Linked DNA regions of Homo sapiens. The protein of the gene in region 1 interacts with the protein of each later gene in a biochemical or structural test. Each region holds a gene or a part of one and is shown on either strand. Other genes may lie near its edges. The genes, in order: MIB1, JAG1, CEP131 and EPB41L5.

Evidence for each region.
Region 2: the proteins of MIB1 (region 1) and JAG1 are reported together in a solved structure, tested with the Homo sapiens proteins (one study listed by BioGRID).
Region 3: the proteins of MIB1 (region 1) and CEP131 form a complex in vitro, tested with the Homo sapiens proteins (one study listed by BioGRID).
Region 4: the proteins of MIB1 (region 1) and EPB41L5 form a complex in vitro, tested with the Homo sapiens proteins (one study listed by BioGRID).

What each region holds. Positions count from the first base shown.
Region 1 is NC_000018.10:21,841,555-21,849,550, forward strand, and holds part of MIB1 (E3 ubiquitin-protein ligase MIB1), read left to right. Parts: intron 1-1,576; coding exon 1,577-1,663; intron 1,664-2,537; coding exon 2,538-2,699; intron 2,700-5,389; coding exon 5,390-5,571; intron 5,572-7,641; coding exon 7,642-7,834; intron 7,835-7,996. UniProt on the Homo sapiens protein: E3 ubiquitin-protein ligase that mediates ubiquitination of Delta receptors, which act as ligands of Notch proteins.
Region 2 is NC_000020.11:10,663,677-10,671,672, reverse strand, and holds part of JAG1 (protein jagged-1 precursor), read left to right. Parts: intron 1-7,658; coding exon 7,659-7,710; intron 7,711-7,996. UniProt on the Homo sapiens protein: Ligand for multiple Notch receptors and involved in the mediation of Notch signaling. May be involved in cell-fate decisions during hematopoiesis. Seems to be involved in early and late stages of mammalian cardiovascular development.
Region 3 is NC_000017.11:81,212,702-81,220,697, reverse strand, and holds part of CEP131 (centrosomal protein of 131 kDa), read left to right. Parts: intron 1-624; 5' UTR 625-641; coding exon 642-818; intron 819-7,996. UniProt on the Homo sapiens protein: Component of centriolar satellites contributing to the building of a complex and dynamic network required to regulate cilia/flagellum formation.
Region 4 is NC_000002.12:120,085,583-120,093,578, forward strand, and holds part of EPB41L5 (band 4.1-like protein 5), read left to right. Parts: intron 1-1,588; coding exon 1,589-1,658; intron 1,659-4,764; coding exon 4,765-4,934; intron 4,935-5,972; coding exon 5,973-6,079; intron 6,080-7,666; coding exon 7,667-7,694; intron 7,695-7,996. UniProt on the Homo sapiens protein: Plays a role in the formation and organization of tight junctions during the establishment of polarity in epithelial cells.

The DNA.
Region 1 (7,996 bases):
TTAAAAGACCAATAAAACCAAGTATTGGTTAGGATGTGGAACAATTAGAATTTGTATACATTGCTGGTGTTTTTTTTTTAAAGCAGGCACTTTGAAAAACAAATTGGTGGTTTCTTACAAAGTTTGACATATATTTATCATGTGACTCAGCTATCCCACTTCTAGGTATGTACCCAAGAGAACATAGGACACCTTTCCAAGCAAATACTTGTACTAAATGTTTGTAGCAGCTATTATTAGCCCCATACTGGAAGCGAAGCCAAATGTTCAGGTAGTGCTGGGATAAACAAATTGTGCAAATTGTGGTGCACCTATGCAATGAATACTACTTAGTGAAATGTCAATGATGGAAAAGCTCAGGAAACTTAAAGAAAAATCCCCATTGTGCACATTTATGTGAGAAATAGACATGATAAAGAATTAAGCTGACACTCGGAAGGCTAAGGCAGGAGTATTCCTTAAGCCCAGGAGTTTGAGGCTGCAGTGAGCTATGTGCCACTGCACTCCAGCCTGGGTGACAGAGTGAGACCCTATCTCAAAAAAAAAAAAAAAAAAAAAAAAAAAGAAGAAAAGAAGCTGAGATCAGGTACCTTCTGACCACACTTCAAAGAAACATAATAAAAACAAATGAGAAATTCCCATCTTGAAGAATATGACATAACATTACCAAAGTTTCAGCTCTGCATACCCCGCCAGTATCAAGAGTTGTAACCAGAGGGCATGCATGGTTCTAAGACCTAAACGAAATGATCGGTTTATCTTTTGAATCTTTAGCTCTTTTCTTGATCTCATTTTAAAAAATTTTTAAATTATGCTAGACATTTGCTAGGCATTTTCATATGTTATTTTACTTAATCTTCACATTAGCCCTGTGAAATAGGTTTTAACTGTCACCATTTTGGAGCTGAGGAAGTAGATGATGGAGTTTTGACCTAGGTCCCCTGACTCCCAAGTGCACTTATTTTGCTCCTCAGTCTCTTTCTTCATTAGGGTTCAGCTGTTCTCATACGGTTCTTCAGCTGCCCTAGGTTCTTGGGTAGGATTTTCTGCTTACTTTAATGCATAATTTTATGTACGAATTAAGCATTACCTTCTCACCTAAAGCAAACTTTCTTTTCACAGAGTGAGGAAGAGCTCAAATATGCAGCAAGGGGAAGTGAACTTATTAGGTCATTAAAGTAAATCTAAATCCAGTATGAAGACTCATTATTATAACTTTTCAGGAAATATTTAGAGTTCTAAGGAGTTGATTATCTCCATTGCTTTATAGTGGAGATTGAAAGAGATCTGTCTTTGAACTCTACTGTGCTTTGTCCTTTTTAACTGTTCTTGGGTGGAATTACCATAATAAAAATGATTTTTAAAACTTGCTGTTTTACTTCAGAAAGTTTGTTGCCCCATCCATTTTTTTCTACTTTAACAGCAACTGTTACCATATGAGAATAACATTGCAGCAGCTGAAGGAGAAAGTAGCCAGCAGTGTTCGGTGTTATTTATTCCTTATGAGTAGTTATAGTTTTCATGTTCTTTACTGTTGTCAAATTTTAACCATTTAACATTTGTTCTTCTCGTTCAGGGTAATGCAAACCTGGATATCCAGAATGTGAACCAACAAACTGCCCTACACCTTGCTGTTGAACGACAGCATACCCAGATTGTTAGGGTAAAGTATTGACATACATTTTAGCTTATAATTACATTTTAACCATACAGATTTTTAGAACTTCCTGAAAATTGAAATGATACAGTGTTACATGTCTCAAGCTGGCATAGTTAGATATAAGTAAATCTAAATATCTAAATACAATGTGATCTGCCAAGACAGATGAGACCATATGCTTGAGATTGGCTTCTATATATAGATGGTACTTTTCTAAAGCTCTTCAGTAAGTATCGTAGAAGGGATTAGGAAAATTGTTAAAGCACCATAAGCAAAGTTTTAATAAACTTATATTTACTGCTTAAGTAATCTATTGAAATATGTCAACTGTGCATTTTTATTTAGGGGGTTGTAGTTTAGCAAACACTGTTCGTATTTATTGTTATTTGAAATTCCTCTTGATATCCTCCATGGCTTTCTTCATGACCATACATTTGGAGAAAATTGACCAAAAGAGAATGGAATCAATAATAACAGTTCCTTGTTTGTTTACATAATAGAAGAATTTTGAACATTATGATTTGGTCCTGGTGGAAGTGCTTAAAATATCTCAAGTCATACATCTAAAGTTGAAAAGAGAAATAAAGTCCTAAATATCCCTCCGTTATCATCATCTTAGAGTAGATGAATTAAGCAACATATTGATTCTCATATATTTTTATTTTCTCTAATTCAATATATTTAAATAACCAGAACACGTGACTCTTTGTAAGGAGCCACAGGGTTGGAGAAGAGTAGAAGGCAAAAGCATAAAAATGATTAGCTTTAGTGGTAACTTCTTCAGTAGGTCCAGGGTGTTCTCACCATTACTTTAGATATGTTGAAGTTTCTTATGGATGTGGACACTTTGCCAAAATGAGACATCTTTCTCTTTTAGCTTTTGGTCCGTGCAGGTGCCAAGCTTGATATTCAGGATAAGGATGGGGATACTCCTTTGCATGAAGCTCTAAGGCATCACACTTTGTCTCAGCTACGTCAGCTCCAAGATATGCAAGATGTGGGGAAGGTGGATGCTGCCTGGGAGCCATCCAAAAACACGGTGAGTAAAGATCATCTTTCATTCAGTACCAGTGGAAGAATCTTTTCATGCAAGATCTTATATTTACTGGTAATCTAACCTGTATTGGATAAAATATTTTATCAGAGCTATGTACTTAGAAACTTAGTTTATGAACTTAGTACTAGTCAGTACTAACTTATTGCTCCACATTTTTACCAAAAGTTGTTCAGTTCTGTTGTTGTTGTTGTTGTTATGTGGAGTCCCACTCTGTCACCCAGGCTGGAGTGCTTGGCTCACTGCAACCACCTGGGTTTAAGCCATTCTCTTGCCTCAACCTCCCAAGTAGCTGGGATTATAGGCGCCTGCACCACACCTAGCTAATTTTTGTATTTTTAGTAGAGACGGAGTTTCACCATGTTGGTCAGGCTGGTCTCGAACTCCTGACCTCAGGTGATCCACCCGCCTCGGTCTCCCACAGTGCTGGGATTACAGGCCTGAGCCACTGCGCCCAGCCATTCAGTTCTTTTTTAACATCAGCCATTCAAATAGATACGTAGTGGTATCTTATTGTGGTTTAATTTGCATTTTCCTAATGACTATTGATATTGAGCATCTTTTCATTTGTCTGTCACCATATGTATTTTATGAAGTGTCTGCTCAAATCTTTTGTTCATTATTTTGTTAGGCTGTTTGTTTTCTTACTACTGAGTTTTGAGAGTTCTTTATGTAATCGGAATACAAGTTCTTTATATGTGAATGCACATATTTTCTCCCAGTTGGTAGGAGATTTGTCTTTTCATTCTTTTTTTTTTTTGAGATGGAGTCTCGCTCTGTCGCCCAGGCTGGAGTGCAGTGGCACAATCTTGGCTCACTGCAACCTCCGCCTCCTGGGTTCAAGTAATTCTCCTGCCTCAGCCTCCCAAGTAGCTGGGACTACAGGTGCATGCCACCACGCCCAGCTAATTTTTTGTATTGTTTTTAGTGGAGACGGGGTTTCACCTTAGCCAGGGTGGTCTTGATCTCCTGACCTCGTGATCTGCCTGCCTCAGCCTCCCAAAGTGCTGGGATTACAGGCATGAGCCACCACACCCAGCCCTTTTCATTCTTCTAATAGTGATTTGGAAGAGTCAAATTTTTTAATTTTGAGGAAGTCTAATTTATCAAGTTTTTCTTTCATCATTTGTGTTTTTTGTGTGTGTTCTGTCTGAGATATCTTTGCCAAACCCAAGATCGCTAAGGTTTTCTTTTATGTTTTGTACTAGAAGTTTATAAAGTTTTAGCTGTTATGTTTAGGTCTATGATTCTTTTTGAGTTAATTTGTATATATTGTGTGACATATGGATCCAGGTTTATTTACTTGTGGATATCCAGTTGTTCCAGTGCCATTAGTTGAAAAGACTTTGTTTCTTTTCTTTTTTCTTTTTTTTGAGACAGAGTCTTGCACTGTTGCCTGGGCTGGAGTGCAATGGTGTGATCTTGGCACACTGCAACCTCTGCCTCCTGGGGTCACGCGATTCTCCTGCCTCAGCCTCCCAAGTAGCTGGCATTGCAGGTGCACACCACCACACCTGGCTAATTTTTTGTATTTTTAGTAGAGACAAGGTTTCACTATGTTGGCCAGACTGGTCCCGAACTCCTGACCTCATGATCCGTCTGCTTCAGCCTCCCAAAGTCCTGGGATTACAGGCATGAGCCACCACACTCGGCTGAAAAGACTTTCTTTTTCTACTGAATTGCCAGTATACTTTTATCCAAAATCAGTTAATTGTTTATGTGAAGGTCTCTTTCTGGATCATGTATTCTGTTCTGTTGGTCTATGTTTTTAGCTATTTGATACCAGCCCCCAGTCTTAATTACTGTCTACATAATACGTGTTGAAGTCAGGTAGTGTCAGTCCTCCAGTTTTCTTGTTTTTTCGAAGTTATTTGACTATTCTAAGTCCTTCACATTTCCATAAGAATTTTAAAATCATTTTTTAGAGGGTAAAAAGGTTCTGAGACCAAAGTGTTTGAGACCTCTGCCTTATTTATGACCATGGGTAAGTTCTCTTAGCTCGGTGTGCCTCTTTTTTTCTCATTTTAAAATGGGAAGAGGAGAGCACTTACCTCGATAAGGTTGTTGTAAAGATCATGGAAAGTGTGTAAAATAATACTTGATCCATTTTAGACACTCAATAAATGTTAACAGTTATTGTGACTATTTTCACATAAGATGATGAGAAGAATCTCAGATAATATTATCAGAACCTAATTTGTCTCATTCTCCGTATCTTGGCTCAATTCCTAGTCATTGGTTCTTTTCTCAGTTGTCTCTCCTGTCATTGTTTCAAGTTGGTTGCTAGCTGCTCCAGAGCCAAATTAATTAGGAAAGAGAGTACTGTTTCTTTAGTATCTCAATCAGAAGTTCCACTTTTGAGTTCTGTTGGGCTTAATTGACTTGATTTGTGTTATGTGTCCATCCCGGTTCTAGCCATATAGGTAAGGTAGAGGTATCTGACTGGTTTGGGCCATGTTTGGTCCACCTCTGCAGCTGGAGAATGTAGGTCCACCTCTACAACTGGAGAAAGCATACTTGTGTGTATGCTTGAGAAAACCAGGGGTAGAGTGGTGGGGAGGGAACATTAGGACTAGAACTCATAAGTGTCCACCACACACACATACATATATATGATGACAAGAATTGATGGCAGATTCCTAGAGGGAAAATCATGACTCTTTATTTTATTGCAGTTAATAATGGGACTTGGTACCCAGGGGGCAGAGAAGAAGAGTGCAGCATCTATTGCCTGTTTCTTGGCAGCCAATGGTGCTGACCTGAGCATTCGAAATAAGAAGGGTCAATCGCCACTTGATCTCTGTCCTGATCCGAATCTCTGCAAAGCACTGGCAAAGTGTCATAAGGAAAAAGTCAGGTTTGTATTATTTATTATCATAAAACTTAATATTCTGTACAGAAAATATCATGTGGTTTCGTAATGGAGGACGTGGCTACTTGAAAATGTCTTCATCTTTGCTCTTCCTGTATATTTGTGTTGACCCTTTCTTTCCTGAAATTTTTCTTCCTTGAAAATTTTTCTGCAGGCAGCATGTCTCTTATTTTATGCCATATTCCCCACATTATTGAGTGCAATGCTCTATACTTAATAAGTTCTGAGAAACTTTTCTAAACTAGTCTGATCTTCTAGTACTCCCATGTGTTAGAGGGATTTATGAGAAAAAGTCTTCTAGTAAAATTGCTGTTGTTAATGTTACATGTATTTTAAATTGTATTTATTTTTTATTGTATTATTATTATTTTTTAAAAATACGTCTTGCTGTGTTGCCCAGGTTGGGCTTAAACTCCTGGGCTCAAGCAATCCTCTTGCTTCATCCTCAGTAGCTGGGACTGTATGCATGTGCCACTGTGCCTGGCTCTATATTTAAAATTTAAATAGAATCTTCCTAAGACAGGCAACTTATACTCCATGAACAGGGTATATCTCACACAAACTGTAGCACCCTGCTCAGTGCCTGACAGGTGCACTCAGTATCAGTGGAGAATGAACAAATGAATGCACCAAGTCCTGGTGGAGTTTTCTCTAAAGATGATCATTTCACATTTGTCTCTTTTTCTGAAAGATATGTCAGTGATTTTAATTATTATTTATGACATAACTAATTTCCTTATGAGATTTTATAGATGTACAAAAAGGTACACATCTCATTGCTTTTTTAAATCTGAACAGTGCTGTGCAACTGTTGTTGCCCTTTGTACCTGGTTCTTGTCACTGAAATTTCAGTAGCTGTTCCTTAACCTTAGTGTTCCTTGCCTCTCTCATAATTTATGTGTAGTGATGAAATGTCATCTCTTTGGAATCTGTGCATAGAACTGTGTTATAGAGGAAATTAATATAGTGAGGTATATACATTTCTTTAAGTGTATTGTTAAGGAACATGAAATTCTATTACAAAAAGAGAATGCATCGGCCGGGCGTGGTGGCTCACACCTGTAATCTGAGCACTTTGGGAGGCCGAGGCAGGTGGATTGAGGTCAGGAGTTCAAGACCAGCCTGACTAACATGGTGAGACCCTGTCTCTACTAAAAATACAAAAACTAGCTGGGCGCATGCCTATAATCCCAGCTACTTGGGAGGCTGAGGCAGGAGAATTGCTTGAACCGGGAGGCGGAGGTTGCAGCAGTGAGCCGAGATCACACCACTGTACTCCAGCCTGGGCAACAAGAGCAAAATTCTGTCTCCAAAAAAAAAAATCTATAAATATAAAGATATAAGGCACTATAATTATTGCAGTAATAACTTTTAAACAATGGAGTCTAAGGTGGACCCTCTGTGTACGTGTTGTGTACGTGTTCGTGAGTTTCTGAAGATTGTGGTAGAAACAGGGCATCCCTTTTCTGTAGCTGTAGGTGGTCATATGTATTTCTGTTCCTTGTATCTGTGTTTACGGATGCAGTCTATCTTTCTGTAATATAATTTTATGTTCCTTAAGGATACACTTAAAAATGTCAAAACAGCAGCTGAAGTGTTAAATTTTCCAAAGTGCCCTATCTGTTGTGGACTCTGATGATGCTTTGTTCCGTCTTTAGTAAGGCAACTAACATGGGGGCTAGTGAGGATTTTTGTTTTATTCCTATGCCTTCCTCTGCTGGTTCTATATAGATACAACAGGTTCTGAGCAAAATTTTGTTTATGCTAAGTTTTTTTTTTAATTGCTGTTTTTTATTTCATTGTTAGAAGATTCACCCTTTTCCATTGGGTGAGTGAGTGTTCAGTTTGAAGTTTGAATTGTGTTAGAAGTATCTAAAGATGCAGAGACGCATATAAACACAAAAATTTAATGTTTCACATACAGATGTTAAAGCTTAATTTTTTAATATGACTAGTTTTTATGTATACTAATGATGCTCCAGGTATATTTTAAAACATTTTAATTAGTGAATTTGTAATAAGATAGGCTTGATTTGAAATACTTTCTTTTATTAGTGGTCAAGTGGGTTCTCGGAGTCCTTCTATGATTAGTAATGATTCTGAAACCTTAGAAGAGTGTATGGTGTGCTCAGATATGAAGAGAGATACTCTTTTTGGTCCATGTGGACATATTGCTACCTGTTCTTTATGTTCTCCACGTGTCAAGAAATGCCTCATCTGTAAAGAACAGGTTCAATCCAGGACAAAGGTAAGATATATTTAATATAGTATTTTGTCATTTTATGAAGTTGAGACTAGAATTAATGATAAATAAGATTTAATGACATCATGCGTCTGTGTAATTTTGCTCTTCCAAACAATGATTTAAATATAGGAATATATAATTTCTGCATTTATCAGATCAGAATTT
Region 2 (7,996 bases), on another chromosome or scaffold:
TTGCCAAGACTGGGGCTTGGCCTAGCCTGTGCTGGGAGGGTGGGTGGTGAGAGGGGGAGCTCGGTGCCCCAGAGCATTGCTTTCCACCACGTGCTCTAATGGGGTGCACTCTGCTGCCTCCTGTCCGCCGGCTTAGGTTGTGATTCTGGGAGGAGACAGAGGGGAGACTATCTGGCTGTGTCTGTGTATGAAGCTTGGGGTGGCTCTTAAAATCCACGATTACAGGAGCTGGCATTATAAAGTGCCCTCTGCTGTGGGTGAGATAAGACAGTTATCAAAAACTGCCATGAAAAGGGGTTTATAAAAAGAAAAATTAAAACCAACGCTGTCTGTGAAGCTCTCTTGAGGTCCAAGGGCTGTTTCTGTTGTGGGATTTCATTTTTACCAAGAGTATTTATCTTGTTTGTTAATCCCCTATTAGGGAGAACTTTAAGCTAAAGAGTCTGGCTGCGTTTAAATCTGGCTGGCCCAAGCTGACTGTGAATACTCAAACTGCCCTTGAACGTGTGTTTGGAGTTTAGGGGGAAGGGGCCTGCAGGTGGTTCCACCCTCCTGCCGGAGGATCTGTCTGGAGCCCCTCGCTTTTCACAAGACCATAAAAGGAATCTTATTAGTGATGTGGAAAAGCAGCAGCCTGGCTGAGGCTCATTTTGGAGAGTAGGGTCAGAGGGATGGCTAACATGAAAACAAGGAGGCTTGCTCCCTCGCTGGCCAAGGAAAAGTGACCTAGAAAAGTGCGTCTGTCCGCTTTTGACACTTGGTCAGAGTCCTCAATGGAAAACGAGCGGAAATAGTGTGGGAGGGTAGGAGAGGCGATTGATTTGCATTTGCTGGTGCTCTTCTGTGGTTTCAGGCCCCACGGGTCACCAACCATGAAATAGACTCTCGGCTTTTCTCGAATGGGGGAAGACCGATGGGGCACCACTGAAAATGTGGTTCTTTTGAAGTTGGGACAAACGCATGTATCACTCATAAACAAGTCTCCACCCTGATGCCCCAGAAAGGCCTGCTGTGAAACATAAGATTTAATTCTCAAGAGAAATTGGAGTTTAGGTGTATTTGTTTTTCTGTATGTGGTTGGAGAAACGGCACAGTCCGTAACTTTCAAGAATGATTCCAGGCTGAGTAGAAACGTAACTGAAACACTTAAGTAGCTGAGCGAGTATTTAACTAGAGGGCACAGCTTCATTTAGTTTGGCAATTAACTATGTCTTTTAAAACTGATTTCCTTGAATGGGAAATAAATGAACTTAGTACAGAATTCAAGAGATAGCAAGAAAAGGATATATGGTTAAAAACAAAACAAAACTCCAAACCACCTTGGGCTCCCAACCCCTAGCAGGCACAATTACCATTTGCATGAGTCCTCCCAAATTTGCTGACGCTGGGTATCAGCAAAGGGTGCAGGGGTAGGTCAGTGTAGAAGGTCATGTAGTTCATGCTTTTTGTTTGGAATTATGACCCCTATCCAAGCAACTGTTCATGTTCTAGAGAGGACGAGGAGGAAACGATTTGGTCAGATATGAAATACAGTCCATGTTCTGGTGTGCATGTGAAAGGCTTTGTAGAGGTGGCCCTTCCTGTCATATATCATATCTGAGTATGTCCCACGTGGTGTCCCCTGCCCCGGCTCTGGTCTTGGGGTAGTTTTTCACCACTGGCTTCTAATTCTCATACTGTTGCTGCTCTAAGGGGCTTAACTTGCAGCAACTATCTGGATTAATGATTCTCAAATTGGGGGACCAAGTGATAAGAACCATTATTGTGGGAAGTAATTGGGCTTAACAGGAAATAATTTAGGAATTACCACTTATAAATCACTGAAACGGTTAATCTGTACCTCCCAAAATTAGTGCTAAATCCCAGTAGTGCCTGCTTATTAAAAATACATTAGTGTAATTACCACTACTCATCTCCAAAAGCTTTTTGGGAACTTCAGAACCCCAGTTAGCTGTATTGCTGCATCGGTGGCCCCAGAGTGAAATGAATCTAGAGAAACGTTAGGGGAAGAAATTGGGGTATCTGGCTTATTAGCCTCATATTTAAATTCCATTGATCCTATTAAAAGACTTGCTGAGATCAACTTTTTTTTTTTTTTTTTTTTTTTTTTTTTTTTTTTTTTTTTGGAAAATCCAATGAAACGTGATTCTTCTGTGTGAGGGATGCCAGCTTTGGCCCCCTTCATGCTTCAGGCCTGAATGACCAATTGCCACGATGCTAATCACAGAATGTAATTGACAGGCCCTTACTTTTATGCCTTTTGCTGTCTTTTCCAGTCCCTGAGCTTCTGTAGATATGGTGTGGGCACATGGAGGGCTTAAGGATGGGGTTCTGATTTGACCTGCCTCCTTTCTGCAGCCAGGATTTGCATCCTGCCCGTGTAGTCAGCATGTATACAAAGAAAGAGCATGTGTGTACGTATGTGCTCAGAGCAAGGGACTTTCTGCATGTGGAGAAAACGCCTTTTGCCCTAAGAAGTCTACCTCAAACCAAAGGGATGAAGTGATGTATCTGTGTTGCAACACTGGGCTTGGGGGAAAGTGAAGCTGTGCTTGCTTTGAAAGAGCTGTGCTAAGTATCTGCAGAATAGCTGCTCCAAAAATGGAATCTTTATTCCAGGTACTTGGTTTCTAATTTTTTTTTCTCTTGCAGGTGTAACCTTCTGTGTTTTCTTTCTCCTTGTTGTCTTGTTTCTTAGCAACTTATTCAAACCTCCAGTACTTATAGGAATTTGCAACCCACCAGTTCCACACCCGTAATTCTACAGGGACTTAAGATGTTTTTAGAAAACGGTGAAACTTTGGCGTGGAGGCTCTTGGGGGAGTTCAGTGGGTTAAAAGGAGAGTCAGCAGCAACTTACAGGCATGCAACCTCCCAGAAAATCAGCAATCTAAGTGCTGCTCAAAATCTTCACACCAAATAGTGGTGCCTTTGGGGACCTTTTAGATAGAAGACGTGGAAAGTTTAGCATGGAGAAAAAAGTTACTTAAAAAAAAAAAAACAGTGTCAAGGTAACAAGGAGCCTTCACAGTTCCTGATCTGAAAACAGGAATGTGAACCAGAGGCCTTGGCTGGATTCATATCACCCACTGGCCCCATTGTAGAAGGGCCAGAAGTTGGTCCCAATGTCCGGCTTTCAAGGTTAGTGACAATGTAAGAATGCATGATCTCTGGATGTGCATACAATTAGCGTTGTAATCCATAAATGCAAATACTCCTGCAAATTCTTCCATGGTAAACTTCTGTAAGGCATGTTGCTCTTCCACCTACCCCCATCCTTCAAGCCTAGGATCTAGGCTGCTGAGAGAAGTGACTCTTGGCTTCAGCTTTTAAATATATATATATCTCTCAAAACTTAATCTTTTCTTCCAACTGTTGGAAGATACATTGGGATGAATGGAAAGTGGTGATTCTAAAATGGTGGTGGAAATGGAGGAGGGTCCTGGGTTCAGAAAAATCCCACCTTTACTTTGGTGCATGGCACTGGGTGGCTGTGTTGTGACTTCTTTGCTGATTTCTGATTACCGCATGGACCACAGCAGCCCTGTGACTGCTGTTTTTTTTTTTTTTTTTTTTTTTTATGGTGCCAGTGACATCTACCATTGGTGCAGTGCGTGTGCTGGGAAGAAATTCCGCAAGGTGGCTCCCAGTAGTTAAAGGAGTACATAAATAGTCAAACATGCAGAGTCCTCTACCAGCTCAACCCAGTTTTTATGCACTTTTGGTAAATAAACAGAAAGGCTTCTTGTTCAGGCTTGCTCTGTGTGAACCAGACCGTTGTGCTTGGCTGGCTTCTTGGTATTCTATCTATTAACCTCGCCACCCTTTTGTAACTGGTGCATTTAATTATCAGTGGGATGCTTTTCAAACAGGTAAGGGTAATGATGGGAAAGGGGGTGGGGATGTCTCATTGAGAGTCACAAATCTGGATATGAGCTTTGGGGCCCCTTGGTGAGCCTTTGAGTGGGCTTTGATGAGAAAATCACCCTTTGTAACCAGATCGGACTCTATTGACATGTCAAGCCCTACAGACTTGATTGCTTTCTGTGCCTGAAGTCTTAGCCTAGATGCTATAGGATAGTTGTCCTTTCTTATCTCACTTTCCCAAAACCCACTCGCATTGTGTGCATGAGTACGTGTGCATGCGCCACACATGGACTCCCTGCAACCTTTTCTGCTTAATATGTTTTGTGACTGGAATATTTTATACTCTGGCCACCCAGACACAGGCAGGACAATAGAGTTGGCCGAATTGACTGAAATGAGGATTATGGAGAATAATAGGGCCTCTCCAAAAATAATGCTAACACAGGACAAGCGACAGGAAGCAACAGTTGAGTCAGCAGAGCTCAGGGCCCCTGACGAACCCTGGGAGCCGACTGACTGTGCACAATGGCCGCGTTGGCACGTCGGGCATTCCCAGGATGTGCGTGCCGCCGGCGGGCCTGCCTGTCGCAGCAGCCTGGGGTTTTGGACGCCGCACGCGTGCCGTTTGGATGGCGGTTTATTTGTGTCCGTCAGCTTGGCAGGAGGGGAGGCAGCCGCTTCTCAGGGCTTGGTTTGGCTGTCACTGTTGCCAGGAAAAGGAAGCTCCCGGCTGCCAACACAATTACCTTTGTTTCTTACATCCCCCCTTCTTAATGTGGCAATTAAGTGCTTACCGCTCTGCCCAGTGCCAAGGTAACCGCCATGGAGTGGGACAGGGCAGAGAACACAACCTTGGCACAGCAGCCTAAGTGTGGAGGGCGGGAGGAGGTGCAGGGGCCCCAGCCTTGCTGGGAACCTGGTGGCCCTTGGATGCCTTGGGGCTTTGATGCCAGGACTCTCCTCTAGGTAGAATTCCACAGAAATCTTCCAAAAAGCAATTCCGAAGGCTGACCATTCCTCTTTGATGCCACACCAGAATGGGAACCAGCTGCCAGGTTTCCAGATTTCCTTGGGCTTGGAGCTGGGAAGGGGCTGAAGTGACTCACTTTGCAAATCCAGACTAAAGATCTGTTTGCTACCCCTCCTTCCTGTGTGGCCTTCACAGTACTGTTCTGGAAAACATAAGGAAAGATGAAAGCCAGGTGACTCTTCGGCAGAGTCTTAGTTCTGTAGTCTGAAATCAAGAAAAACCCAGGTATTTGCTTTTGTTGTTGTTGTTTTGCTGTATAAACTTAAGTTTGAACACTTGCCTTTCCAAGCCCTCCTGGGATGGAGGACTCCGCCTCTACTGGGGGTCAGAGTTGCAGTGGCTGCTTGTATGTGACTTCGGCATAGTGGATTTGCTGCTCTGTGGCCTGGTCCCTGCTTTGATGTGGGGTGCATGATCTGGGATCTCAGTGCCTGGGTGTATGTTCAGGGATGTACAGAGGTCAAGTGTGGGCCTGGGAAAAATTAAAGTTCTCTAGCAACTAATAATCATTGTTAAATTATCTTGATTGCTGATCTATAGTGTGGGGATGGAGTGGGAGGTTGAGTGCCTCCTAATAGGAACCTTGGAGGGAATCCTTTTTCTCTGTAGGGCTGGGCAGGAGGAATCCTCCTGCCCCAGGAGACCCTAATCCCCTCCCTGAAACAGACAGGAAAAAAAGTCCAGGCTTTGTTGCCGTCACTGTAGCTCCCTGCCCTCACCCTGTCTCTGCCTCTGAGAAAGAAGGGCAGTTCATGGAAAATCACAGAGCCAGGCACGTAGGGCTGTGTGCAATTCTTTTCTCTCCAGGTGGGGTGATGTCGGTCAGCAACTTCTGAGGTTTTCCCAGTTCTGGCGAGGATGAGCCTGGTAGACTGCTTGGTCGTCCAAGTTCTTGTGCAAGACCTAAGGATGCTTTCCTCTTTGAGTATTAAACTGAGTTAGTACTGCCATGCCAGCTCAGTCCCGGCACCTTCCCTTGCAGTGGGGTTTGTGGGTATTATGTGTTTAGCGCTTGTGCAAGTCTGTCAAAACTCCTGGTATCAATGCATTTAATCAGAGGATTAATTACAACAATACTGTTGAAGTGGAGGACGTGGGCCTCAACGTGACCAGCAAATGAAGGGCTTAATTATACAGAATCAGCCACACATCTGGCCTCATTTTGACTGTGCTCTTACCTCAAATCAGTAGAGAAATATAATTTCTTGCTGCTCTTAGGGAAGAGTCCTGTAATTTGCAGGAAGTCCTAAGAAACTTAAAGAGGCAGTAAATAAGGTATAACTTTCGCTAATAAAATAGTAACAACAGCAATGAATTTGGACCTGTGGCCACTAACAGGAGAGGGCTGGGTATGTGCCCTGGCTTGCCCGGTTTTGCTTGCTTTTCTGAGCATTTTCCCACAGTTATCAGTGAACGAAATGGAATCCTACTCTGCTTTGAGTATGAAACATATTTCGGCTGAATTCCAAGGCAGGGTCTATCACAAGATATTTTTATATTCAGAGATGACCTGCTGTGTCACTCTGAGAGCGCTAAGCTGGCCTTGAGTTATGAATGAAACTCCCTTTTACCCTCCCTTTTTCTCTTTTTCCTTTATCTTATAGGTGCTTTCTCTTCTCTTGGCAGCAGTGTGCTTCTGGTGGCACAGCACGGTATTATTTAATCTATACACGCTTCTATTTCCTATGGCTTGGTTTCTGACACAGCAAAGCAGGGATTCATAACCTAGTTCATGTTCCTTGTCTACCCCACCTGCCTTGAGTACATTTCTTCAGTGCCAAGATAGCAGAAGCTTCATTTAAACGCTGGTGTTTTGTGAGACTGACCTTACTGTAAATTACGAAGGAAAATTTTAGAAAAGGAGGGAATTTGCTAATAGCTTAGGTTTGGCTGGGGGTGGGGAGGTGGAATTCTGAGATAAGCTTGGAAGATAAAAGGTGCCTTCAGTTTAACAGCTGGCATCTTGCCAGTATCCAGGGAATTTGTTTAGTTAGTAGACTCTGATTATTCTTGGAATGTTAGATCTTATTAACAGATAAGTTCATCAATAAATATAACCCATGGGTGTGCGGTTGTTTCTCCCTTTGTACTTTCTTCCCTGGGATCTGCCCCCAACTCCACCGCCCAAGTGAGGTTGACTTCTTTGTCTTGCAGAGTCACTTTGCATCTACCCCCTCCTGTTTCCTAGAGTTACCCGATACTTGTGGGAGCCAGGATGGTCTCACATAGACAGAGTTTTCAAAGGGGTTCTAAAAAGGAAAAGGGGGCCTCCCTAGAGACTGCCTCACCAGGGCCCAAAGTGTAACCTTAGCAATACCCCCTCGGTACAAATACCTGGTTAGGTTAGCTTAGAATAAATTCTTTGTGTGTGTGTGTGTGTGTGTGTGTGTGTGTGTGTGTGTTTCCTCATGCACTAGGGTCAGGGTCTGGAAAGTTTTGGGAAACTATATGCTAAATACTCTCATATCATATAGTGAGGTGGCATTTCCTGATCTCAACTTTGAGCTGCCTGCATGCATGTTGACTCCAGTGCGTCCCTGCCAGGTGAAAGGAGTCATTTGTCAACCTGGGAAGAGTGCTGACAAAGGAAGGGGAGTTGGTTTGGATTTAAACATCCAGGAACTCAATGCAACAACCAACAGAATTTTTATTTTGGCATTATGGTTTTGTTTGGTGGGGTATTCTGGGAGGCCAAGAATGTACGAGATTTTGGAAAGTCGACCCTGTTTCTGAATTGCTAAATTGTTTGTTTGTCTTGCAGAGGTCCTATACGTTGCTTGTGGAGGCGTGGGATTCCAGTAATGACACCGTTCGTAAGTATCGCTTCTGTGGACTTTTCTCTAAACACACGTGGAAGTGTGGGGCTTGGCCAACCAGTTGGAGCTGGATCTGTCTCCTTAGTACTTAGCATTTCTGCCACCTCTTGCCTTCTGTTCTCCCCTGTACCCCAGGGTGAACCTTCAGTGGAATGTATTCCTTAACTTTTCTAGGATTTTTGCTTGGAATATTAAGTGGCCAGAACAGAATCCCAGTTAACTCATTCCCTGATTATGAAACCTAGATTATCTTCGGGATAGAGATCTTAATGGTTTTACAACT
Region 3 (7,996 bases), on another chromosome or scaffold:
AAAACCCCGTTTCTACTTCTACTAAAAATACAAAAATTAGCCAGGCGTGGTGGCGGGCACCTGTAATCCCAGCTACTCAGGAGGCTGAGGCAGGAGAATCGCTTGAACCCGGGAGGCAGAGGTGGCAATGAGCCGAGATCGCGCCACTGCACTCCAGCCTGGGTGACAAGAACGAGACTCTGTTTCAAAAACATAATAAAATAAAAAATAAATCAAATGTCCCTTTTACAGAAGAAAACAGTGGGGCTCGGGGCAGTGACTTTCTCAGAATCACGGTGTGGGGTAGATGGCAGAACCTGGCTCACATCGACAATGGCCTGTGGCCCAGGCTCCCTCTGGGGTGCTGCTGGCTTATTCCCACCCACGGGCCTTGCCCTCGCCACCCACCTGTCCATCATCCAGGGCCCTCCTGCCCTGGCATACACTGACATTGGGCTCAGAACAGCTCCCTCATGTTCCTGTCGAGGAGCCTGCCACCAGCCAGAGGGGTGCATAGGTTGTGACAGGCCTTCCCAGGAAGTTTGGTGGCCAGTGGACCCAGCTGAGGCTGGGCTGGAGATGGTGGGTGCAGGGGACTGTAGTTCCCCCACGGCATCTCATTGCAGCTCTTGCTTCCCCGCTCAGGACCTGCCTTGTCCACCATGAAAGGCACCCGGGCCATCGGCAGCGTCCCGGAGCGCAGCCCAGCAGGTGTGGACCTGAGTCTGACAGGTCTCCCTCCGCCTGTGTCCCGGCGTCCTGGCAGTGCCGCCACCACCAAGCCCATCGTCCGCTCTGTCTCCGTGGTCACAGGCAGCGAGCAGAAGAGGAAGGTGCTGGTGAGTACTGTGGCCTAGGAGTCCGGGCCCCTGCCTCCTGGAGGGCTGTTGTTCAGTTGGCATCTGACCCCTGGGTCCAGCTCCACAGGTGAACAAGTGCCTCACATCTGGACATGCTGGATCCTCGTGGCTGTTCCAGGAGGCAGGTAGGACTTGAGTCTTACAGGCGTGGGTGCTGAATCACTAGAAAGTCAAGCCAGAGCTTGGATTCTTTCAGCAACAGCCCCAGGCCTCCTGTGCCACCGCCCTTTGGATTTGTTTGAATCCTCAGGAAATGGGGTTGGCTGGGCTCGGTGGCTCACGCCTGTAATCTCAGCACTTTGGGAGGCCGAGGCAGGCGGGTCATCTGAGGTCAGCAGTTCAAGACCAGCCTGACCAACATGGTGAAACTCCGTCTCTACTAAAGATACAAAAAAAAATTAGCCGGGCATGGTGGTGCATGCCTGTAATCCTAGCTACTCGGGAGGCTGAGGCAGGAGATTTGCTCGAACCCAGGAGGCAGAGGTTGCGGTGAGCCGAGATCGTGCCGTTGCACTCCAGCCTGGCGACAGAGTGAGATGCCATCTCAAAAAAAAAAAAAAAAGAAAGAAATGGGGTTGACCTGTGGGGAGGGGTGATGAGCTCCTGGTGGCCTTGGAGAAACCTAGACGGGTGTGTGGGTGTGTGGGCAGCAGGACAGCCGTGGGAGCTTCGGGGTGAGAGCTGCCTTTCCTGCCCACCTCTGGGAGTAGGGAGGAGGGTGGGTGGTTCCCAGATGGGGGCTGTGAAAGGCAGGCCGGGCCTGCTGCACCCTGAGTTGGTGTCTGCCAGGCCCAGTCTTTGGGGCAAGGGAGGAATCGAGCCGCTCTGTGGGGGTTGGGGCAGAGCCTGACCAGAGTCTGGCCTGAGCTTCCGAATAGCAAGGGCCTGGGGGCCTTGGCTTCCATGCGGCAGCCGGTCTGGGGCTCCCTGCCTGAGGTCCGTGCCAGGCAACATAGCAGGGCAGAGAGAAGGGGTCTGGAGGGCAGTTGAGGCTTCCCACAGGAACCCCTGGCAGGCCCAGGCCAGGGTTCCACTGTGAATAAAAGGCTTGGACCTCCCCCTTCTCCTTGAAAAAGTTATTCCTGTGTCTGCCCTAGAAGCACCCCCAGGTGGGCAGGGTGTGGCCCGCCAGACGGCTAGCCGAGTTCCGGGGTAAGGGCAGCCGGGCCAGTAGCGGACCCTTGGACCAAGCAGGTTCCCAAAGCCTGGGCCAGCAGGGCGGGGACCCGGGATGTCCTGATGTGTCATTGTGGCCGGCAGGTTGTCTAAAGATGTGGTACGCCTCTAGGCATTTACAGACGTAAGCTGTGAAAATAAAAATATGCTGCACTGTTTTAGCAGAGGGGTAACCAGCTTGGGCTAGAGCCGTCTCTGAGCCTGCTGCCTCTCCTGTCCGCAGCCCTGCTCCTGCGTCACTGACCCCCTCGCCCACCTGCCTTGGCCCCTCCCGCTGTTTCTAAAGCCCTAGGTTCATGGCACATGGGGCGGGGAAGACGCACTCGAAATCGCAGATCTGGGCTGGGCGAGGTGGCTCACGCCCGTGATCCCAGCACTTTGGGAGGTTGAGGCGGGTGGATCACCTGAGGTCAGGAGTTCAATACCAGCCTGGCCAACATAGTGAAACCCTGCCTCTACTGAAAATGCAAAAATTAGCCGGGCGTGGTGGCGCGCACCCTTAATCCCAGCTACTCAGGAGGCTGAGACAGGAGAGTTGCTTGAACCCGGGCGGAGGAGGCTGCAGTGAGCCGAGATCATGCCACTGTACTCCAGCCTGGGCGAAAGAGCAAGACTCTGTCTCAAAAAAAGAAAGAAAGAAAGAAAGAGGGAGGGGGAGGGGGAGGGAGAGGGAGAGGGAGAAGGAGAAAGAAAGAAATTGCAGCTCTCTTGTTGTGTGGAGACTGTTGTAAAAGTTTCCGGGCTTTCTAGTAGATGGTCTTTCGGCGGCATGGCCAGGCTCTATCCGCGGCCGACCCAGGCACCTAACCACACTCCCAGCCTTTCTGCTGGGAAATGTTCTGTTGCTGAGTAGAGGTTCAAAGCCACAGCGAGCGCTACTCATATCGATCCCTCCTTTCCTCGGCTGGTACCATTGCCCGCTCCCGCAGTGTTGAGTGGCGACTGCTAACAGTCCCCTCGTTCATGGAATGTTCCAGCTGTTCACTTCAATTCTTTGAGGCCCTCGCTCGATCCGAGACGGCCCCACCCCTGCATGCCTGTCTGCCTTCTGTTGTGCCCATGGTGGGAGCTCGGGAACTGCTGGTGGAAGAGGAACCCCCGCCAGTGTGTGACGTGACCTCAGGGGTTTCTGTTGTGCCCGGTCCCCATCCTCTCGGCCACCTGCCCTGCTACCACTCAGTCTCATCGGGATTCCTGGAGAGCATTTGTTTTGGCCAGGCATGGCTTCACACCTGTACAAGGCGGCACGTGATTCTCTTCCTCCTGGTGTTTGTGGGTGGGGTGGGGTGCTGTCCCCTGGCTCGGAGACCTTCTCGGTGGCCATTGGCCTGGGGTTTCCACTCTACCCCTTGTCTCTAAAGATCTTCCTGCGTCCACGGCCTGCTGTCCCGGGATTCCCCATCCAGGATGTAACTGCAGTTCCTGCTGGTCTTCTGGCTCAAGAGATGTCGGTGCCAGACTGTAGAGGGTCCCTCTTCCTTGCCCCAGCTGTGTGCCCACCTGATCCTCTAGCCCCCTAGATCATTATTCACTCTGGTTCCCTTCCCCTTAAAGAAAAGAGGTCTTTAAATCCCAAGAGCACAAGCTCACTGGGGAACAGACATCACTGTGCATATGTGTCATGGCCATGGGGGCCACCTGCCCCTCCCTGGGCGATGTTGCCTCCTTCTTGCAGGTGGAGTTTAGGGTTTTTAGTCCATGACTTGATTTACCATCTGAGCATGAGTGGTGCCTTTCCACCGTGGTGTCCGTCAGTGAGTGGCAGCCCCTTCATCCCTCCCCTGACATCCCTTATCTTCCTCTTGGAGGCTGCGAAACTGACCCCAGGAAAATGGAGACAGGATGAAGGGCACCCATAATCCCATGGCCCTGATGCAATGACTGGTGCCATTTTGGGGGATGATTTCAAAATTCCTACCATGTGTTTTGAATAGGCCATTCACACCCACCATTTGGGAAAAGGGGGCTCATTGAGCAGTGAGCCTGTCCTGCCCGACCTTGCGGGCCTCTCCTAGGCGGCCACTGTTCTGTTTCTCCTGCACCCACACTTACTCTGGGCACACAGGCATCAGTGATGCTGGAGATGTGTTGGAACAAGTGCCGTATCCGTCAGCTGCGTGGGGCTCCTGCATTCTCTTTTCTTTTTCTTTTTAAGACGGGGTCTTGCTCTGTTGCCCAGGCTGGAGTGCAGTGGAGAAACCACAGCTTACTGCAGCCTCCACCTCCCGGACACAAGTGATCCTCTTACCTCAGCATCCTGAGTAGCATGGATTACAGGTGCTCACCACCCTGCCCAGCTAATTTTTAATTTTTTTTTTCTTTTGAGACAGACTTTTGCTCTTTTTGCCCAGGCTGGAGTGCATTTGTGAGATCTCGGCTCACTGCAGCCTCTGCCTCCCGGGTTCAAGGGATTCTCCTGCCTCTGCCTCCCAAGAAGCTGGGATTACAGGCATGCACCACCATGCCCGGCTAATTTTGTATTTTTAGTAGCGACGGGGTTTCGCCATGTTGGTCAGGCTGGTCTTGAACTCTTGACCTCAGGTGATCCTCCTGCCTCAGCCTCCCGAAGTGCTGGGATTACAGGTGTGAGCCACCACACCCAGCCTACTAATTTTTAATTTTTTTGTAGGGACAGGGGTCTCACTAGGTTGCTGGTCCTTAACTCCTGGGCTGAAGCGATCCTCCCACCTCGGCCTCCCAAAGTGCTGGGATTACGGGTGTGGGCCGCTGCACCTGACCCTGCTCCCGCTTTCCTTACATTGTTTTGTAGCAGCTGACAATAGTTCATCAGATGATGCACCAGAACTTCACCCAGTGCTCCTCTGGATTTTCCTTATCATAGTACCAAGAGTGGCACAGCAAATACCCTGTGTCTTTGCCATTTTGCATACATGTAAATACGCCTGTAGAATAAATCCTAAAGGATAACTACTGGGTCAGAGCATAAGTCCATTTAAAATTTTGAAAGGGGGGCCAGGTGCGGTGGCCCGTGCCTGTAATCCCAGCACTTTGGGACGCCGAGGTGGGCAGATTGCTTGAGGTCAGGAGTTCGAGACCAGCCTGGCCAACACGGTGAAACCTCGTCTCTACTAAAAATAGAAAAAATAGCTGGACGTGGTGGCAGGCACCTGTAATGCCAGCTACACAGGAAGCTAAGGCAGGAGAACTGATTTAACCCGGAAGCTGGAGGTTGCAGTGAGCCAAGATCGCACCACCACACTCTAGCCTGGGTGACAGCGAGACTCCATTTCAAAAAAAATTAAATAAATAAAAAAATTTGAAAGGGGGCCGGGAGTGGTGGCCAATATCTGTAATCCCAGCACTTTGCGTGGCTGCGGTGGGAGGATCACTTGAGGCCAGGAGTTTGAGACCAGCCTGGGCAACATAGTGAGACCCCTGTCTCTACAAAAAAATTAAAAAATTAGCCGAGTGTGGTGGTGCATGCCTGTAGTCCCAGCTACATGGGAGGCTGGGGCAGGAGGATGGCTTGAACCCAGAAAGTTTGAGGCTGCAGTGAGCTATGATCATGCCACTGCTCTCCAGCCTGGGCAACAGAGTGAGACTCTATCTTTTAAAATTAAAATTAAAACTAAATTGTAAATTTTTGGCCAGGCGCGGTGGCTCATGCCTGTAATCCCAGCACTTTGGGAGGTTGAGGCAAGCAGATCACGAGGCCAGGAGATTGAGACCATCCTGGCTAACACGGTGAAACCCCATCTCTACTAAAAATACAAAAAAAAAAATTAGCCGGGCGTGGTGGCAGGCACCTGTAGTCGCGGCTACTCGGGAGGCTGAGGCAGGAGAATGGCGTGAACCCAGGAGGCGGAACTTGCAGTGAGCCGAGATCGCGCCACTGCACTCCACCCTGGGCGACAGAGCGAGATTCCGTCTCAAAAAAAATTTTTTTTTTTGATAGGCATTGCCAAGTTGCTGTCCGTAAAGATCATTGCCCTAAGTCACACTCGCATCACAGGGTGCCACGGGGCCTGCTCCCTCGTGCTCTGGTTGGCACACGTGCAGCACAGTTTTGGCCTTTACAGGATCCATATGTAACAAAAGATATCTGACTGTACTACCTTTTAGTTTACTTTTTACTTTTTATTTTATTTTTTTCTTTTTCTTTTTTGAGATGAAGTTTCACTCCTGTCACCTAGGCTGGAGTGCAATGGTGTGATTTCACCTCACCGCAATCTCTGTCTCCTGGGTTCAAGTGATTCTCCTGCCTCAGCCTCCCGAGTAGCTGGGATTACAGGCGCCTGCCACCATGCCGGGCTAAGTTTTGTATTTTTAGTAGAGACAGGATTTCACCATGTTGGCCAGGCTGGTCTCAAACTACTGACCTCAAGTGAATCCGCCCGCCTTGGCCTCCCAAAGTGCTGGGCTTACAGGCGTGAGCCTCCGGCGTGACTGTACGATTTTTAAAAATAAACCTTTTATGTTAGTATAGTTTTAAATTTATAGAAAAATTGGAAAGTGCAGGGTGTTCCCCTGTACCGCACCCAGTCTCTGCTATTTGAATATCTTACATTATGATGGGACGTGTACAATTAACAAGTCATTATTGGTAAATCACTGACTAAAGTCCACACTTGATTTGTATTTTTGCAGTTTTTCTTTTCTGTCCCAGGATCCCACATGATTTTTGGGCTGTGGGTCTCAGGCTTGTTTGGGCTGTGAGTTTCTCAGACTCTCCTTGTTTTTGATGACCTTCGAGTTTTGGGGAGAGCTGGTCAGGGATTTTACAGAATGGCCCCCTGTTGGCCCTTGCCTGATATTTTTCTCGTGATCAGACTGGGTGGTGGATGGGTTCTAGGAGGAAGGCCACAGAGGTAAAGTACTCTTCTCACCCCATCCTGTCTGGGGTCCACACTGTCCATGTGACCTCTCACTGGTGATGCTGCTGGCCTTGGTCCCCTGGCCAAGGTGGAGGGTCAGGCTTCTCCACTGTGAGGTCGCCCATCCCCTGTGCTCTCTGGAAGGAAGTCGCTTTGTTCAGCCCACATGGAAGGGGTGGGGAGTTTTGCTCCCCCTCCTTTAGAGAAGAGCATCTATAGAAGTTATTTGGAATTCTTCTACACAGGAGATTTGTCTGTTCACCCTCATTTATAATTTTTTTTTTTTTTTGAGACAGTGTCTCACGCTGTCGCCCAGGCTGCAGTGCAGTGGCATAATCTTGGCTCACTGCAATCTCCGCCTCCCGGGTTCAAGCGATTTTCCTATCTCAGCCTCCTGAGTAGCTAGAACTACAGGCGTGTGCCACCACACCTGACTAATTTTTGTATTTCAGTAGAGATGGGGTTTCACCATGTTGGCCAGGCTGGTCTCGAACTCCTGACCTCAAGTGATCCTCCTGCCTTGGCTTCCCAAAGTGCTGGGATTACAGGCATGAGCCACTGCACCTGGCCCCACTTATTAATTTTTTCAATCATTTATTATAATGGACTCGTGGATATTTATTTTACACTTCAAGTTATAATTCAATGCTAGTTTGCTTATTTTGTTGCTCTCATTGTCACAGCTTTGGCCACTGGGAACTTTCAGGTGGCTCCTGGGTCCCTGTGTCATTGCCCATCACTTTGTCTTCTGAGCACGTCCTTATTTCTGGCCCTATAAACTGCTCCAGCCTCATCTTGTCTATTTCCTCCTCCAGTCCTAGAATCAGCCATTTCTTCAAGAAGCCCCGGTTCTTTTTCTTGGAGAGTGGTCTCAGAGACCAAGGTCTGGGAGCTGGGTGTGCTTGTCCCTACTGGGCTGTTTCTGGTCTTCTCAGCCAACAGAGCAAGGAAGTATGTAGTGTACGCCAGTTGGTGTGTAATATACACACTGTCTATAGATAGTAACCTACCTAGTAACCATTGGTGTTGTGCGTCCTACTGATGTCTCTGCCGCTAGTGGCACCTCTCGCCCCCCCGACGCTTGCTGATTGTAACCTCCCCTCCTGCAGTGAGGATGCGGCCCCATCGTCTGCTGTCCCTGGTTTA
Region 4 (7,996 bases), on another chromosome or scaffold:
CCGTTCTCAGATCTCAAACTCCGTGCTGAGAGAACCACTGCTCTCGAAGGTAGTATTTCATTTAGTTTTGCATCTGGGTGTTCTTGCTAGGGACTCTCTGAGAGACTTGAGTTGAACACCTTTACGGTTGTCCCTTGATGCGTGAAGAACCTCAGGCAATTATCTTCCAATTTTTTGGGTGTTAAATCCCCTCATACCTCCAGCTTGTCCTGTGGGCAAATGTAACATGCTTCCTGGCCTAAGAATGCTTTAGGCAGAGAGATAAAGAAAGCTCCTTTTCTGCCTTTTTATAAGGTTGTCTTGAGAGTTAATTAATACTTGTAAAGCACTTAGAAGAATACTTAGGGCAGACCAGGTGGCTCACTCCTGTAATCCCCACCAAGGCAGGGGCTCACCTGAGGTCAGGAGTTCAAGACCAGCCTGGCCAACATGGTGAAAACCTGTCTCTACTAAAAATACTAAGATTAGCCAGGCATAGCATGGTGGCACGCACCTGTAATCCCAGCTACTCTGGAGGCTGAGGCAGGAGAATTGCTTGAACCTGGGAGGTGGAGGTTGTAGTGAGCCAAGATCACGCCACTGCACTCCAGCCTTTGTGACAGAGTGAGATTCTGTTTCCTTTCTTTTTCCTGCTATTATTTCTTCATTATTGTTTTAGTAAAGCTCTTGTAAAGTTATGTTTTACATCTATTTTATATGTTATATTTAAAGATTAGTCAATCGGAGTGTCACATTGTTTCGACATTCACAATTTATGGAAATACAGAGTTCAAATGTGTGGTAGGTGGTTTGGAATTTACAAGTAGGGAGATACAGTTGGAAAGCGGGCCATAAAGCGAGGTTAAAAAAATTAAGAAGTATTTCCTCTACCCAAAATTCCTGTTGAAAACAGAGTTGAGGCTGGTTGCAGTGGCTCACGTCTGAATTCCAACACTTTGGGAGACCAGGGTATGCGGATCACTTGAGCCCAGGAATTTGAGACCAGCCTGGGCAACGTAGCGAGATGCCGTCTCTACAAAGAATACAAAAATTAGCCTGGTGTGGTGTGGGAGTAAGGCTGAGGCAGGAGGATTACTGGAGCCTGGAAGTTCACGGCTGCAGTGAGCTGTGAACACACTACTGCAGTCCACCCTGTGTAATGGAGGGAGAACCTATCTCAAACAAACAAAAAGAGTTGAAAACCATCGTCAGTGTTTTTCTTTATGGCTGTTTTTTTTAAGCTTTATGGTCGTTCCTATGTCTAGTTCCTATGCTGCTGCTCTGCTTTAACACTGGAACAATTTTCCCTAGACCTAAAGAATCTCTTACACCATAATCGAGACCTATCAAATACATAGATTTCATTTTCCTTAACATTTTTAATGTCTGATATGTGCAACCTCAATTTTGTCTGAGATTTGCTTTTGAAATATGTACTGTGTTTTTCTGTTTCCTGTCTTTTGATGGGCATTGCAAGTTACGTTTACCGTCCTGTCAATTTTTAGTTCAGGAGTTAGATGGTTAAATGTATTTGAAATAAAAACAATTTTTTTCATATTTAGAGAACATTTGTTTGTAATTTGGCTTTTATTCTCTTATTATATTATAGGCCGAAGATAACCAGATTGGATTTTAAGAAGAATAAATTAACCTTGGTGGTTGTAGAAGATGATGATCAGGTAGGAATAAAATTATATTCTATTACTTGTGTAACAGTGACTGTATTATGTGGTAACTTATTTCTCTAAAAGAGGGAATGTACCTCATTGTTTTAAAGAGCCACAGAATGCAAACAGTATAATTAATGCTTTAAATAATTTCCTTACTTGGGTCATACCATGCTAAAAATATGGTTTTCTGCCCTTAGGATGAAAAATAATATAAAAGTGTCTTCTTGTTTCCTCATTGATCGTATATCTGAGGTGTATAAAAAATTACATTTAAGTGAGCCAGCCAGTCACCCAGGCTGGAGGGCAGTGGCACTGTCATAGCTCACTGTAACCTTCACCTTCTGGGCTCAAGTGATCCTCCTGCTCACTCAGCCTCCTGAGTAGCTGGGACTGCAGGCACATGCCACCACCACGCCTGGCTGATTTTTTCATTTATTTGTAGAGATGGGATCTCAGTATGTTGCCAAGGTTGCTCTCAAACTCTTGGCCTTAAGTAATCCTCCCATCTTAGCTTCTCAGCATGTTGAGATTACAGGAGTAAACCATTGTGGCAGACCAACTTTATCTCTTTATTAACTGATCAAAAAGATCTACCTAATAATAATAAAGCCTTTTGAATTAAAGATTACCTTTGTATCAGTTACAGTGTGGTTCTTAATTGATACATGCTTGGATGCAACTCACATGCATTGTTCTTAATGCAAGAAGCCAGATTTAAAAAATTATGTATTGAATGACTCCATTTATCTGATACTTTAGAAAAGGCAAGAAGAATTTTACTTTATGCAAATTAATAAATTTTAACATATGCATACAGATACAGATAAAAGCAGTTTGAGCAAAATGTTAACAGTTGTTGAGTCTAGACACTATGTATATGGGTATTCAGTTTTTCTGTATGTTTAAACATTTTTATAACGATGAAAATTTTTTTTTTGAATCCAGTTCTTTCATTTTCCTCTGCTCAGTAATTTGACTGCTATACTTTTCCTGTTTTAAACACACAATGGGATACTATGCAGCCATAAAAAAGAATGAGATCTTTTTTGCGGGACCATGGATGGAGCTGGAGGATATTATCCTTAGCAAAGTAATGCAAGAAGAGAAAACCAAATACTACATGCTCTTACTTACAAGTGGGAGCTAAATGATAAGAACTTATGAACACAAAGAAGGCAACAGCGGACACTGGGATCTACTTGAGTGGGGAGGGTGGGAAGAGGGAGAAGAGTAGAAAAGATAACTAACTGAAAGATAACTGGACTTAATACCTGGGTGATGAAATAACATGTGCAATAAACCACCATGACACGTGTTTACCTATGTAACAAACCTTCTCTTGTACCCCAAACCCAAAATAAAAGTTAAAAAATAAAAAAGAGTGCTGCTCTGAACACTAAGGTGTATGTATATTTAGCTTTTGTAGGTACTGCCAAACCTCTTTCCAAAGTATTTAATACGAGTTTATACTCCCACCAGCAATGTTATTGGTGTTTTTTTTCTTTTTTGCTAATGTTTGGAATTCTGTCTTTTTCATTGTAGCCATTCTTGTGGAGTAGAATGTGGTTTTAGTTTGTGTTCCCCTAATGACAACTCTGGTTTAGTACTTATCTGTGTAGTTATTGGATATGTGGATATCTTCTTTATGAAATGCCTACTCAAATCTTTTGCTTATTTTTCTATTAGGTCATGTGCCTTTTAGTCATTGAAAAAATTCTTTGTATGTTCTGGATATTAATTCTCTGTCAGATATTAGTGTTGCAAGTATCGTCTACTCCTTGTTTTGCCCTTTTTCCACCACTTTTATTTTTAGATGACATATAATAATTGTACATATTTATTGCATACAGAGTGATATTTTGATACATGTATACAATGTGTAATTATCAAATCAGGGTAATTAGCGTATCCATCTTTACTGTCTTAATAGTGTCTTTAAATAACCTGAAAAGTACCAAAAATTATAAAATAGATAACCATCTTATTAATGATCTAGATTTAACATTTTTTACATTTTGCTTCAGTTCTCTTTTAGAGAAAGATAAATACAATTATGTGCATGAATAAATAATACCAACTAAAGTCTAACCCCCTGACTACCTACCCCCTTTCTTCTGGTACCTGGTCACCAATTTTGGAGGGTATTATTCTCATATATATTTTGTAACTTTTTCCAAATATTAACTCATGTTAGAATTGTTTTAAAAACTTGCATAATTATATATATTTGCAGCTTGCCTGTTTTATCTAAACGTGTACCTATGTAGATCTAACATATATATATGCTATTGTGTAATATGAATAAACAATAGCACATTCATTCATTCATCATTTATTCATTTATCCCTCTGCATAATTTTTTACATATGCCTCTATTTACTTGACCATTTCTCTTTTTTTGGACGTTTAGGGTTTGTACCAAGTTTTACTATTATAAATGAGACTGAGGAAATATACATCTTCATATATAACTTTTGATGTTTAGGAAATAATTTTCCCCAGAGAGGCAGTATAACTTAGTTGTTAGAGGTGTATGTAGATTCTGGAGCAAGACTAATGTTTAAGTTCATTTCCGGTTTTCTTTCTTAATAGCTTTGTGATTTTGGGCTTAATTTCTTTGAGCCTCAGTTTCCTTATCTATGAAATGGGGCTAATGATAGTATCTACTCATTGAGATAATTTATGTGAAATCCTTAGAAAAATTTCTATATGAATGTTAACTATTATAATTAGACTCATGGCAGTGTGATTACTATGACAAAAATGTGAGCATTTTTAGGGCTGTTGATGCATACTGCCAGATCTGATATGATTCCTCAAATTATAATTATACAGTTATCCCAAATAATGGCAGATAAAATCTCATTTTATGTCTCTCTCACAAATGAGATCATGTAAGTAGAGGGGAATAACTCCTAGGAATAATTTTGTATTGGCTGATAAAATGAGCAACTTGATTTCAGCTCTGCCCTTATTATGTTGATACTATAAAGAGTGTCTGAATTTCAGGGAGCACACTAGATCCTTTATTCATGGATGTGTTTGTATCTCAGAAATAGGAGATAGGACTGTTTGAATTAGTAATCATCCTTTTATATATACTTTTCTTTTTCAGGGCAAAGAACAGGAACATACATTTGTCTTTAGACTGGATCATCCAAAAGCATGCAAACATTTATGGAAATGTGCTGTGGAGCATCATGCTTTCTTCCGCCTTCGAGGCCCCGTCCAAAAGAGTTCTCATCGATCAGGATTTATTCGACTAGGATCACGATTTAGATATAGGTTAATTTTAATTGCTGTTTTATCTGTCTTTCATTGCATACAGGCCAAAAAATTTAGGCCAATCTTCTCTTTTTTACAGATATGGTAACTAAGGTATAGAGGAATAAGGTGGTTTGCCAGAGTCTTCCATTGGCCAAAATAAAATAGAAAAAGTGGTATTGTTATTGGTTATAATTTCTTGAATAGATGCGTAAACAGTAATTGTATAATGGCTTTTATATCCCTCTGGATGTTTACTTTATATATTAACCCACTCCCAGTTTATCTATTTAACAAGAGTTTTATGGACTCTCCACCCACCACTGGATACCATATAGAAAAGGGTTTCTTGCACTGAATGGGATATTAGTCTGGATAACATTTGTGGTCCTTTATAAACCTGAAGGTCATTATTCTCATGACTCCTTGTTTGTTGTCATGAGTTAGAAATGTTTTGGTTTACTGCAGAGTGGATTATTGGTTGTGAGTTTTCTGCATGCCATGGAAATCAGTTAAAGAAGGAATGGATTGTACCAATAATGTGGCCAGTTGATTGTGTGGAGTTAATAGAAGTAGTACTGTAGTCTACTTATATTAAAAGTAAGGAGGCATTTTCTAAACAGAATTTAAATGGAAATCAAGGAGAATAAGACAGTAGTCTTAAAAAACATTTCTGGAAAATTATACTGAAAAGTGAATATCACAATTAGAAAAAGTAACTGAAAATATTCTTTTAATTACACACTTTGCACTGAGGAATGTAGATGGGAAAGAGAGGGAGTTTCCATAAAAGGACAGATATTTCAAACTTATTTAATGTGTACTTAGGTGATATGCATGCATATGAGAAAAATAAAACCAACATAATCTGTTGCATATTTCACAAAAGCCGAAAGAATGATATGGTAAAGAGAGAGATCGAGACTATTAGTAGCTGTTCCTGTGCGATGAAGTTTAGGATGATTCTTTTAAGGAGAACCTGAATGTGGACTGTCTTATTTGTGTGTGTTTATTACTGTAGACCTAAAATTTCCCTTACTTCTGTTATGCCTCATTTAGTGGGAAAACAGAGTATCAGACCACAAAAACCAATAAAGCAAGAAGATCAACATCCTTTGAAAGAAGGCCCAGCAAACGATATTCTAGACGAACTCTACAAATGAAAGGTGAAGTGCAACCCTCTTTCAAAGGATTATTTTTCCTTGGCAATTAATTATGTGCTGGTGTTGTTTCCATAAGAGGAAGTTACCTGAATCTCCTCCTCAGGTCTGTTCCAGTCAACTAAAGTACTTTTCTGGCAGAATCAATTTCATGGGATACACAGAGAAAAATTGCCTGTATTGTTAGCAGAGATTAAACTTTATGTTAATCCCAATTCAAATGATAGTCTGAGGTTATGTTCAGTTTTTGTATACAAAACTGTTTCTGTAGAGCAACATATTCTCTCCCTTTTTGACTTACAGATCTCATTCTAAAACATCCCTTAATCCCCTTAGGAATTTTTAAAAACATTTTTATTTATTTATTTATTTATTTATTTATTTATTTATTTTGAGATAGTCTCACTCTGTTGCTCAGGTTGGAGTGCAGTGGCATGATCTCAGCTCACTGCAACCTCCACCTCCCAGATTCAAGTGATTCTCATGTCTCAGCCACCTGAGTAGCTGGGATTACAGGCATGCGCCACCACTCCTGACTCATTTTTGTATTTTTAGTAGAGATGGGGTTTTGCCATGTTGGCTGGGCTGGTCTTGAACTCCTGACCTCAAGTGATCCACCCACCTTGGCCTCCCGAATCCTAAAAGGATTACAGGCATGCCTGGCCAAAACATTGTCTTGTGATGAATTTTTTTTAAGTAAAATTTATTTCATATTGTATTATAATATTAAGGATTGTATTAAATACCATTTTAAAATATATTCATCATTGTTATACATAGACATTTCCTAATTCATAATTGTTACTTGCTGATTAAGATCAGTTATATAAGAAAAAGCACTATTTACCTTGACAAATAAATTAAACCTTGTGTTTGGTTTTAAACTGAATTTGCATTAAAATGAATTTGCATTAAAATGCAAATTTAATTTTAAGTATTTCCACTGTCAGAGTCATCACCAGTTGTCCAAAAACAGCTGTAATGATCTGATGTTTGGCAGTATTGACTTTTTTATAAAAATGATTTATACTCATAAGTTTTGGTGTGGCTGTAAATTAAATATACAGCTATAAATGAATTGTGATGATTTTAAAACCCTAAGTTTCCTCTTGGTTTCCACTGATGATAATTCATAATCAGTCAGCTCACTCTGGAGGCTTACAGATTGGTTCTGTTTAAAAGGAGGAGATATATATGCATTGTATTGCTTTATTTGAAAAATGAAAATAATTGCCATTGTTGCCTCTATGGTGTGAATCCCAAAACACTTTGGTGAATTGAAGGTTTTTAGATTTATGGTTGGGGCCAAATGTGGTGGCTCACACCTTTAATCCCAGCACTTTGGGAGGCCAAGGTGGGAGGATTGCTTGAGCCCAAAAGCTCAACTCTTAGGAGTTTGAGACCAGCCTGGGCAACAGTAGTGAGACCCACCCCTATCTCTACAAAATCATGAAAGACCCTTTCTCAAAGAAATAAATTTATGGTTGTGAAACATGGCTTGTAAAGCAATTAGTTAAAGTTTTGCTTTGAATAGTGCAGCAGTTTATCATGTAAGATGAAACTAATGAGGTGTTATCTTTTTTCTTCTGTTAGCATGTGCTACAAAACCTGAAGAACTTAGGTAAGTAATGTTTTGCAACTTAGGAATTGGTATAGAATTTGGGATTTATGTAGTTGCTATCATTAAACAAATATTTAAGACCTATCAAAATGTCAAGTTGTCCGTAAAGCACCAGGGATATGTCAGGGAATAAATGAACATGTAATGCCAGATAAAAGTGACATGATGAAAAATTAAAGCAGTTTAAGGAAGTAAAGAATGGGGTCGAGGCAGATGAGCCATTCATAAAGAGAATGACATACCTTTGTTATTGGCAAGTGGCTGAGGATCTTAAGATAAATTATGATCCTTATACATAAGAA